Regions from separate parts of the Homo sapiens genome. Here region 2 is linked to region 1. The links come from fine-mapping of genetic effects on gene expression. A gene starts in region 1. The other region holds a variant in brackets. All regions are shown on one strand. Distances are between the middles of the regions. Region 1 holds the start of HACE1 (HECT domain and ankyrin repeat containing E3 ubiquitin protein ligase 1). Region 2 has its middle 150 kb from the start of HACE1.

Region 1 (5,381 bases):
CTTTAAAGAGCCAAGCTCAGAGAATTCAAAGACTCATCAGAGCTTAGAGACAAAGATAAATTAAATTCAAGGAACAAAATGAACATTATAATCAAAGAAAAGCAAATGCAAACGATGCCATTTTTGCCTATGTGGAAAAGTTTTACTTTTACTAATAATACTCTAGTTTCTGGGCACTCTCGGACTGCTGGTGGAACTTTCCAAGGAGTAAGTTGAGAAACTGATATGTTGAGCCTTAGAAATGTATTGTAGATATTCTTCTTGTAAGAATTAACCCTAAGGAAGTATTTAGAGGCAGACTATGTCTTAAATACAAAGCTGTTTCTCATAAAATCAGTTTAAAAACAGTATTTAGATTCAACATTTGTTACATGCATCCTATGAAATTCTGAAGTCATTAAGCCTATTGAAGAATACAAAAAAAAAAAAACATTTGGGGCGGGGCACGGTGGCTCACGCCTGTAATCCCCCAGCACTTTGGGAGGCCGAGGCGGGCAGATCACGAGGTCAGGCGATCGAGACCATCCTAGCTAACACGGTGAAACCCCGTCTCTACTAAAAATACAAAAAATTAGCCGGGCCTGGTGGCAGGGGCCTGTAGTCCCAACTACTGGGAAGGCTGAGGCAGGAGAATAGCGTGAACCCCGGAGGCAGAGCTTGCAGTGAGTCGAGATGGCGCCACTGCACTCCAGCCTGGGCGACAGAGTGAGACTCCGTCTCAAAAAAAAAAAAAAAAAAGGATGTTTTCTAAACACAAAATAAAAGACTATATGCAACATGATTTTAACTTGTTAGGGAGGGAAAAAGAAATAACAATGGTAACACTGTTTATAACTGGATGGTGAAATGACATATTTTTTTCTATTTTTCTTTATTTTCCAAATTTTCTACAATGAAACTATATTACTTTTAAAACCAAGTAACATTATCAAAGTCTTCTAAATCACATTTATGTAAAAAATATCGGGATTCAAACTAGACAATATAAATTATACATGTAGTCTTCATAAAGCTATACCAATAATTCGACTACGAAAAATAAGTAAGAGTAGCACTTAAGAAATGGATTCAAAGGTGGAAGTTGGAAAGAAAATATAGAAAAAGTTGAAGCTAGAATCTAGTTACCAAAATCTGAATTCTAAATAGAGACTAGAGACCATTTTTTCAAGAAGATTATCCCCAGGCCAGGCGCGGTGGCTCACATCTGTAATCCCAACACTTTGGGGGGAGCAGGGTGCGGATCACTTGAGCCCAGGAGTTCAAGACCAGCCTGGGGAACATAGTGAGACCTCATCTCTATAAAAGAAAGGAAAGAAAATTATCGCCAAAGTACCCAATCCCACATTTCTTTCATGACCGTCTGCCAAGGTCTCCTTCCCTATCCTACAAACCACCCAGCAGCAATTCAAAGAGAGTTTTGAAAAAGTAAGATAAACTACTACAATTAAGAAAAAAGCTATTCACCAGCTACAACCTCCTCCCAACCCTTCTCTCACTTGGGCATAAAGAGCCAAAAGCTTCTTAGAAGCAGCACTGCTGTCTCCCATCACCACTAAAATGTCTGAATTCCTGACGCTGCAAACAAAACTGCTTATTTTCTCTCCTTGTTATTAGCAGAGTTTTACCTGTCCTGAGGGAACCCTGGCACGCTGAACTAAAAGTCCTGATCCTCAGGGACCATGCCTTATTCCTCTTTGCAGATGCGTCCTAGTTACCAGCTAGCCCACTCAATACTAGTCTGATGAATAAATGAAGAATGAAGGCAGGCATGCATATTAAAGAAAAATATATTGTGTTTACCCATACAGTACTTTAAGAGTACCTGTTTGATGTTTGACAACCCTTTGTTTGCCTGTTATCAAAACAAGGCAGTGCCCCACATTTTAAAAAATAACAAAAATAAAAGCCCGCCTGGCCCCCCGATGCAGCTTAAAGTAAACAGTATCTTTGGATCATCTCTATCCCCAGCTACTGTTAAATGACCCGCAATTATGATGTTTTCTGACTCCGGGTCTCGGGCCTCCGGCTGGTATTCCTGCCCCTTTGCCAAGACCCCTAATCGACAGACGTTGCGAGACCTTTGTCTCGCTCCTCCCAGCAGCGGAACCCCCACCAACCCAGTTTCCTCCCGAAAACTCCCACCTGCCGGGGTGGGAGCGTCGGGCCAGGGGAGTTCGGGGCCCGGGGCCGCCTCTCAGCTCTGGAAAGTAAAAGTGGGCGTTTTCTCAGCTTTCAGTTAGTTTTTCCACCCGACCTTGACGCGGCCGGAGCTCCTGCCCCACTGGCCGCCCCCAGCCCCGCGGCCAGCCTGGCCCCGCGACCCGGCTCACCCTCGGGCAACTCCACGGTGCGCGCGCGGCGCAGCGAGCGCGTCAGGCGGTTGAGTTGCTCCATCGCTCTCTCCATCCTCGGCGCGCCCTCCGCGATCCTCCGCGATCAGCCGCCCCACCGGCGGCCTCCGCGCCCAGAGCCCTACATCTCGCCTGGGCCCGTCCAGCAGGCGGAGACGCGGGCTTGCCCCGGCTAGAGCACTGAGCTGCGAGGGCTGCCTGGGGCCACGTCCTGCGTCCGGGGGCCGGGCTGCTGCCGGACCGACCACCTACAGTACACCCGCCGCCGCCTCTGCTCGCGCCTTTCCTGCAGCCCCCGCCGCCGCGTCCCTCCCGGGCTCGCGTGGCCTTCTGGGAACTGTAGTTTCCAGCTGGCAGAACGGAGCGCCCTGGGCGGAGTCACGTTGGGGGCGCCCAGGCCACGCCAACGCGGGCGCAGGGCTGAGTATGCGGGAAGCCACGCAGCGACTGGGCGTACTCCTAAGCTTCTGGAAAGGCATTCTCACGCCCTGCTCCTCCTACCCTCCTCCAAAGTTGTACAGGAGCAGTTTCCTCCAATTCTATAACTTTACTATAAAACAGATTAGAAATTGGCACAATTGTTCTTAAATCCGTCACCACCTTTCTAGTACTGTATTAGTGCCTTTGTTTCAGGTACCCTACATGAACTGTTTTAAGTATGGTATTTTCATATGTCAAACTTAAAGAGTAATAAAATCAAACAAATCCAAAAGCATATTGTGCTTTTGTCTTCATTGTAAATAACTTGACAATAGCTTAATTAGTTGTTTTTCCTGCCGGGCGGCTTTATGAGGGCAGGGACATTTAATCTTGAACTGTGTTGTATCCCTGTACTTAACAAGGCACCTAGCACAAAGTTAAAGCTCTGGGGAAGATATGAATGATGACAACCTGAAAAAATTTTTTCATTTATTTGGTACAATGCTAAAGTGTCTATGTGATGACACAGCCTAGTGGGAAATCCAAAGGATTTGACTTTGTAAGTTACAAAAAATTTGGATACCTACATTGTGGAAGAAATGAACTCAGTGGCGAAAAATCATATTCATAAGCTCTGCACAGAAGTTGAACACTTGAAACAACAGAAGTTGGAACTTCAAAAAATTAACCCAATCAAAGGGGTAAATGTGAGCCTGGCTAACACCAATATATCTTGGATATATTACCAGTGCCAAGATGATGCTGGAGTGAGGGAGAAACAAAAGGCTTGTCTTTTTCAGCTTCTCTTCCTCAAAGAGACAAAGCTGTTCCTGAAATGAATGGGCACATGTACGTTGATGATGTATGTTGGCTGGCCAAGTGAAAGAGAGTCTCACCTGCCCATTCAGGATATGAAGGGGCAGATGGTGGTTGGCATGTGTTTTCCCTGCCAGTGCCGTCCTAAATCAGTTCCAGCTAGTGACCATTTGTGCCAGTGGTGCCACAGGCACGGGGAAGACCTCTGTAATCTTCACCTAATCAGATGATACCTAAACCAGTCTGGCAACAAGGTGGTAGAGGTCAAAGTTTCAAAAGAATACCAGAGGCTGGGCGCAGTGGCTCATGCCTGTAATCCCAGCACTTTGTGAGGCCAAGGCAGGCGGATCACTTGAGGTCAGGAGTTTGAGACCAGCCTGGCCAACATGGTAAAACCCTGTCTCTACTAAAAATATGTATATACAAAAATTAGCCGGGCGTGGTGGTGTGCCTCTGAAATCCCAGCTACTCGGGAGGCTTAGGCAGGAGAATCGCTTGAACCCGAGAGACAGAGGCTGCAGTGAGCTGAGATCCTGCCATTGCACTCCAGCCTGGGTGACAGAGCGAGACCCTGTCTCAAAAAAAAAGGAAAGGAAGAAAGAAATACCAGACGTTATGGACCAGTCTAGCCCAGGCTCAACCATTTGCAACCTGGCTTCAACTAAAAATGTTCCAGTCTTGCTTGGCCTCTTATGCTATTCAAAAAGTCAGGATTCCCACTGCTGTACAGAAGTTGGCCCCTCAGCTTCTCTCAGCTGCTGTTATCACCATTGCTCTCTAGGCTGTTGCTCCATATAAATTACCTCCAACGTCCTGTGAGGACCAAGCCTGGAGTTTGTGGGCAGGGGTAGGAGCCCCCAGCAGCCTCCATGGTGGGCATTGCATCTCATGCTGGTCACTGTTCACCACAGGAGCAGAAGATAATGGAACAGGTAATGCTGATGTGAATTGTCAGTTCCAAATTCTGCAATATGATGCCGTCTCCCAATAGCTCTGCTTCAAAATGTATAAAGCTGCAGTACTACTATCAGCTTATCACCTCCTGTCCAACAGAACTTTCTGCAATGATAGAAATATTCTATAATCTGCAATGTCCAAAATAGCATCCACTAACCAAATGGGGTTACTGGGTGCTTGAAATGTGGCTGGTGCAACTGAATTTTAAATTTGTATTAAAGTATAAGTAATGAAACTAATTAAGTTAAATAGCTGTATGTGCCTTGTGGTTACCGTATTAGACAGGGCAACTTATCACACCAAGAAGAAAGCTGCCCAGGAGAACACCAAAACAGCTAAACAGCTTCTTATAGATTATTATTAGCTAAAGAGTAGATTTTCTCACCTGTCACCAACACCAAAAACATCAAGTGGAAGTTTCAAAAGGGCACTTTGTATCATAAGTTCCATTAACAAAAGCGTAGAGTTTTTCACTAATGATAACCCAGGTTCTTCTGTGGCCCAGACAGTTTCAACTTTCTTTTTTGTATATCTGGTATTTTTTTCTTCCTGGAAATTGGTTTTATTGAAGATTCCCAAGCATTAAGGGAAAGAGAAGAGAAAAACAATCTGTTCAACAAAAGGCAGGAAATGGGTGGGAAGCAAAGAAAAATGGTCATAAAAACAAAACATAAAGTAGCAGTAGAAATAAATCTAAATATATCCATGGTCACAGAAAATATAAACAGAGTAAACTCAATGTTTACTCTAAAACATAGAGGTCTTAGATAGTGTGTTAAAGAAAAATAAAAATGGAGGCCACAGTTTAGATATACCCAAGTCCAACTGTGTATAACC
Region 2 (5,381 bases), 150 kb before region 1:
AAGCCATACTAGCTTCATCAATTTAAGTATTTTGATACTCCAGTAAATTAAACACTTAAAAGATATTTATAATGGGCTGGGCGCGGTGGCTCATGCTTGTAGTCCCAGCACTTTGGGAGGTCCAGGTGGGCAGATCACTCATGGCCAGGAGTTCGAGACCAACATGGCAAAGCCCTGTCTCTACGAAAAATACAAAAATTACCCAGGCATGGTGGTGCACACCTGTAATCCCAGCTACTCGGGAGTCTGAGGCACAAGAATCACTTGAACCTGGGAGGCAGAGGTTGCAGTGAGCCAAGGTTGCACCACTATCTTCCAGCCTGGGTGACAGAGCAAGACTGTCTCAAAAAAAAAAAAAAAGATATTTATAATGGGTAAATGAATAATAATTTGAAGTCACAGATCTCAACGTTTACGAAAATAAAACTAAGACTTCAAAATAATAAATATTAACCAGAACTGGAAAGCAAAATGAAGTGGAGTAAGTGACTTTCAGAAAAGGAGGAAATACAACATGTTCTTTGATATAAATACAAGCAGGTAATAAAAGAAAGTCGGCATTGGAAAAACATACATCCTCCTCCTTTACCCTGTGAGCAGACCTTACTTATATGCGTGAGAAAGAAAGAAACTGCAGCATCCAAAAGTAGAGGTCATAAGTCACATTCCTTAAGAGCAACCAACTGAGAAAGATAAGTTTGGAAAACTATGAAGCATATTTTTTATTTTTACTGTTTAACATAATTTTGACAGGAGAGCAGACAAAAACACACTCCTGGGAGGAATGGCGGCAAAAGAGAATGACAATTATTATTTTTCTATATGCTGCAATGTGACAATGTATTTTGCAAAAACAACCACACCAGATGTCTAGCCTCTGGACTCACTTTTTACTAGGATGGCCAGCCATCTCATCAAGTGCAATGTACACATCGAGGATTTACACCATGCTCCGTTTAATGCCTAAAGGTTTGGTGGGGTTCCACATGGAATTAACTTGATTCTGAAATTGGGACTATTCACGGCAGTCCCAATTTTAAGCTGAGTCCATCTGCCAAAATGTTGCTTCAGATGTGAAATGTACTTGCTGGTGGCTAATTTTCAAAAGCATCTCGTAGTCACTTACTGGTATGTAAAATGTACAGCTCAATTGCTATTCATTAAGAGAGAAAAAATCAACATTGCCTAAATGGATTAAAAACAGAAGTCACAGACAAGGATGTAAAAGCACTTTGATTTTTCAATAGAGAGATTTTTATACATTTATTGGCATTCTCCAGCATCAGTCATCTCCCAGGCTGAATGCTCAAGATTTTCATTTTCACCATTAAATGGTCCCTGTTTAAATGGATCTCCTTACTTGGCAAAACATATTTACACATCCAGTTGTGCCAGCTCTAAGGCTTCTAGTTCTAAACGTCTATAGGGAAAAAAGAGAAGTGTTAGGAGGTGACTTCACCTTGCCTTTCCCTGAGATCTGATAAAAACTGCTCAACCACACACAAGAACAGCAGGATGTGGTCAGAGGCGTCGTTCCTCCTCTGTGAGACACAGTTTCCTCAGGAAGGAAATCTTAAGAAAGGTATCAGGAAACTATGGACTATGCCAGTCAGCTGTTAAGGGCTCAGAAACTCTTAAGGGAGCAAAATGTTCAACCACGCTCTTTTTCTGAATAGAGAAATCAAATCCCGAGATCAGCCAGGGAGAAAAAGAAAAAGATCAAAAGGGGTATTCTATCTCTAGCTCCAAAACAAATAGCACTCGTTTTCAGTTTTTAAAATGTGCGTGTCTTTAGTCATTTCCCAGGATGGCTTTAAACATGTTGACAGTTTTGCCTCGAACAATGGTGCTGGACTCACCATGGGCATGTTTTCCAAGCCATTTTCTATGAATGTCAAATTGCCCAGGATGCTTCTTTATGGACACCTCACTTCCAGAAGACACCAATCCTTAAAGCTTGAGCTGAATAGGAGAACAGATGCTTAATTTTAAAGTATCACTTCAATTTCTAGCTGAGTAGAAGGGACAACTCCCAGGGCTAATATAAAGTGTCTTTGAAGATCCAACTTCATAAATGACTAGTTAATCAAGTGTAAAAGTTTAAGGAGGGAAGAAAGTTCACTCACATAGCTTCTTAATACCCATCTGGTTCCAAATAGCCTATATTTATATTAAAGGGCGGAAGATAATAACTTTTTTTTGTTTATGTCATTCTTAAGATACAGCAAGACCTATAATCTCCTAGAATTCCTTAAACTAAACTCTTCAAGAACATTACCAATCCATTGCGTGCTGAGGACAAAACAGGATACAAATAAACTAAAAGAACAGGGTCCTTGACGTTAGCACAGTTTTAAGAGTTTTTAATTCATTGCTTTCATTTAAAAATTTGGAGGTTTCCCACGAATATCCAGATTTATGTTTGTTTGTTTGTTTTAATGAGAAGATCCAGCCACAGTAGGTTCTCATTCCCATCTGGCAACAACTGACTGGTACTGAGTGGCTGCTGCTTAATCCTGGATAATCTCTAAAATCCTTCCAGAAACAAAATCCTGGGTGTCTAAATATGATGCAGCAAGTTTGTTGTTAAACTTTGAATTCAAATGGCATGAACAAAATAGACTTCCCAAGCATGAAACTTAGAATACGTCTATGAAGTAAAGTGAATTTCTGAATTGTGATAATTTAAAATAAAAAGGCTGGAGTCAGTAGTGCTACACGAGATTGGGCAAAGACACCAAAGAAACACACACAGACATTGAAATGTACTTCACTGGACCCCTTGATTTGATTAGATGTTGGAATATGAGATCAAAATTGTGTCCTGAAGGACAAAGAAGAGGATGGCATAACTGGGGGATAAAAGGAAGGAGTAAGCAATCCTTATGAGCATGGTAGAGAGAAAACGGGGAGGTTACATCCTGGGAAGACCAAGAAATGAGAAGAAATGCCTTCAGGAATTTTTGTTTAATTCCTGTATTAAAGCAAACTCTACACATAAAAGTCCTATAGATAAATTACTACTGTAATTTTGTGTAGACTGACAAAGAAAAAGACTCAAATTACCAAAATCAGGAAAAAAAGAAAGATCACTATCAATCTTACAGAAATAAAAAGCATTACAAAGGAATACTATGAAAAACCATATACCAATAAATTAGATAACTTAGATGAAATGGAAAAACTCCTAGAAAATGCAAACACAAAACAAGACTCAAGAAGAAATAGAAAATCTCAGTAAATCT[G/A]TAACAGATAAAAAGCGTAAGTTACTAATTTTAAATTTACCATGAAGAAAATCTCAGGACCAGACAGCTTCTCTGAGTGAATTCTACCACTCATTGAAACAATACCAATTCTTTGCAGTTTTCTAAAAAAAAAAATAGAACAAGAGGGAACACTTCCCAACTCATTCTATGAGGCCAGTATTATTGTGATACCAGAACCAGGCAAAAGCATCACAAAAAAGAAAACTATAAGCCAAGGTTCCTTGTAAATATAAGTTAGAAAATCTTCTATAAAATACTAGCAAACTTACCCAGCAACATATAAAAAGGATTATACACCATGACCAAGTGGGATTTATCCAAGTAATGCAAGTTAACAAAGTTTGTTTACAAACAAAAATCAGTGTAATAAACCATATAAACAGAATAAATGACAAAGACCTCGTGATCATTTCAATAGACACAGTAAAAGTATTGTATCTAACAAAGTCCAACAACCCTTCTGGATAAAACCACTTACCAAACTGGGAATGGAATAGAAGATGCCTTAGTCTATTTGTGCTGCTATAATAAAATACCATAGACTGGGTAATTTATAAACAATAAAAATTTATTTCTCACAGGTCTGGAGGCTGGGAAGGCCTCATTCTGTGTCTGTGAAGCCCTCCTTGCTGCATCCTGACATGGCAGAAGAGGTGAACGCTGTATCCTCAAATGGTAGAAGGTAGAAGGGCAAAAAGGTCTGCTGAGCTAGATCCCCCCAATCCTTCTATAAGGCACTAATCCACTGATGAGGGCAAGGCCCTCATGACCTAACCACTTTCCAAAAGGCTTCATCTCTTAATACCATTACAATGGAAATTAAGTTTCAACATGAATTTGGGAGGGGACGCATTCAACCCATGGCAGAAGGTATCTCCCTCCACTTGAAAAACAGCATTTATGAAAACCTACAGTTAATATTACACTTAATGATGAAAGACTGAATGCTTTCCCCATAAGAGCAAGAACGGATGAGGATGTCCATCCAAGAATAGGATGTCCACTCTCACCACTTCTATTCAACATCATAATGGAGGTTCTAGCCAGGGCAATTAGGCAAGAAAAATAAATAAGACATTCATATTGGAAAAGAAGAAGTAAACTATCTCTCTTCACAGATAATACGAACTTGTGCATATAAAATCCTAAGGAATTCACAAAAAGCTATTGGAAATAACAAATGAGTTCAACAAGTTTGCAAGACTTGAGATGAATATACAAAAATTGGTTGTATTTATTTCTATGTACTAGCAGTAAGCATTCTGAAAGTAAAATTAAGGAAAAATTCCATTTAAAATAGAACCAAAAAGAATAAAGTACTTAAGAATAAACTTAACAAAAGAAATGCAACACTTGTACACTGAAAACTACAAAACATTGTTAAAATAAAGAAGACCTAAATAAATGGAAAGACATCCTGTATTTGTGGGTCTCTAGAAGATTTGTTATTGTTAAGATGGCAAAAGTCCTCAAATTTATCTACAAATTCAATGCAATCCGTGTCAAATCTCAACTATATTTTTGACAAAAATTGACAAGATAATACTAAAATTCATATAAAAATGCAAGGGACCTAGAATAGCCAAAACAAACTTCACAAAGAAAAGCAATTTTGATGAACTCACACTTCCTGATTTCAAAATTTTCCACAAGGCTACAGTAATCAAGACAATACAAGACTGGAATAGGATAAGAATATAGATCAATGGAATAGAATTGAGAGTCCAGAAATAAACTCATACATCTATGGCCAATTGATTTTTCAACAAAGGTGTCAAGATGATTCTATGGGGAAAGAATAGTCTGTTCAACAAATGGTCCTGGGACAAGTGGATATCCACATGAAAAGCAAAAGAAGTTGTACTCCTTCCTTAAACCACACACAAAAATTAACTCAAAGTGAATTATAGGCCTAGATGTAAGAGCTAAAACTATAAAATTCAGAAGAATACTTAGATATAAATCTCTGTCCTTGGTTGACTATGTTTTCTTAGATACAATGCCAAAAGCATAAGTAACAGAAAAAGATATAGATAAATTGGACTACACCAAATTTTAAAATTTTTATGCTGAAACCAATATCTTCAAGATAGTGAAAAGACAACCACAGAATGA

What was found. PIP is the estimated chance that this variant, and not a neighbour inherited with it, causes the effect. A credible set is the group of variants that fine-mapping cannot tell apart.
Region 2: its variant is the best candidate, but not a certain one, in a credible set for the expression of HACE1 in skeletal muscle (GTEx, PIP 0.63).

What each region holds. Positions count from the first base shown.
Region 1 is chr6:104,857,237-104,862,617 of GRCh38, forward strand. HACE1 (HECT domain and ankyrin repeat containing E3 ubiquitin protein ligase 1) reads right to left here and starts at 2,683. Exons shown (of 24, transcript NM_020771.4): 1 at 2,331-2,683. The coding sequence starts at 2,406. It also overlaps the pseudogene LOC100422315. RefSeq lists a silencer at 2,112-2,741 and enhancers at 2,364-2,863, 2,478-2,772.
Region 2 is chr6:104,703,760-104,709,140 of GRCh38, forward strand. No RefSeq gene overlaps it. Among named protein-coding and RNA genes, the nearest start is that of HACE1, 150 kb to the right of the region's middle. The variant G/A (reference allele first, on the strand shown) is at 3,246.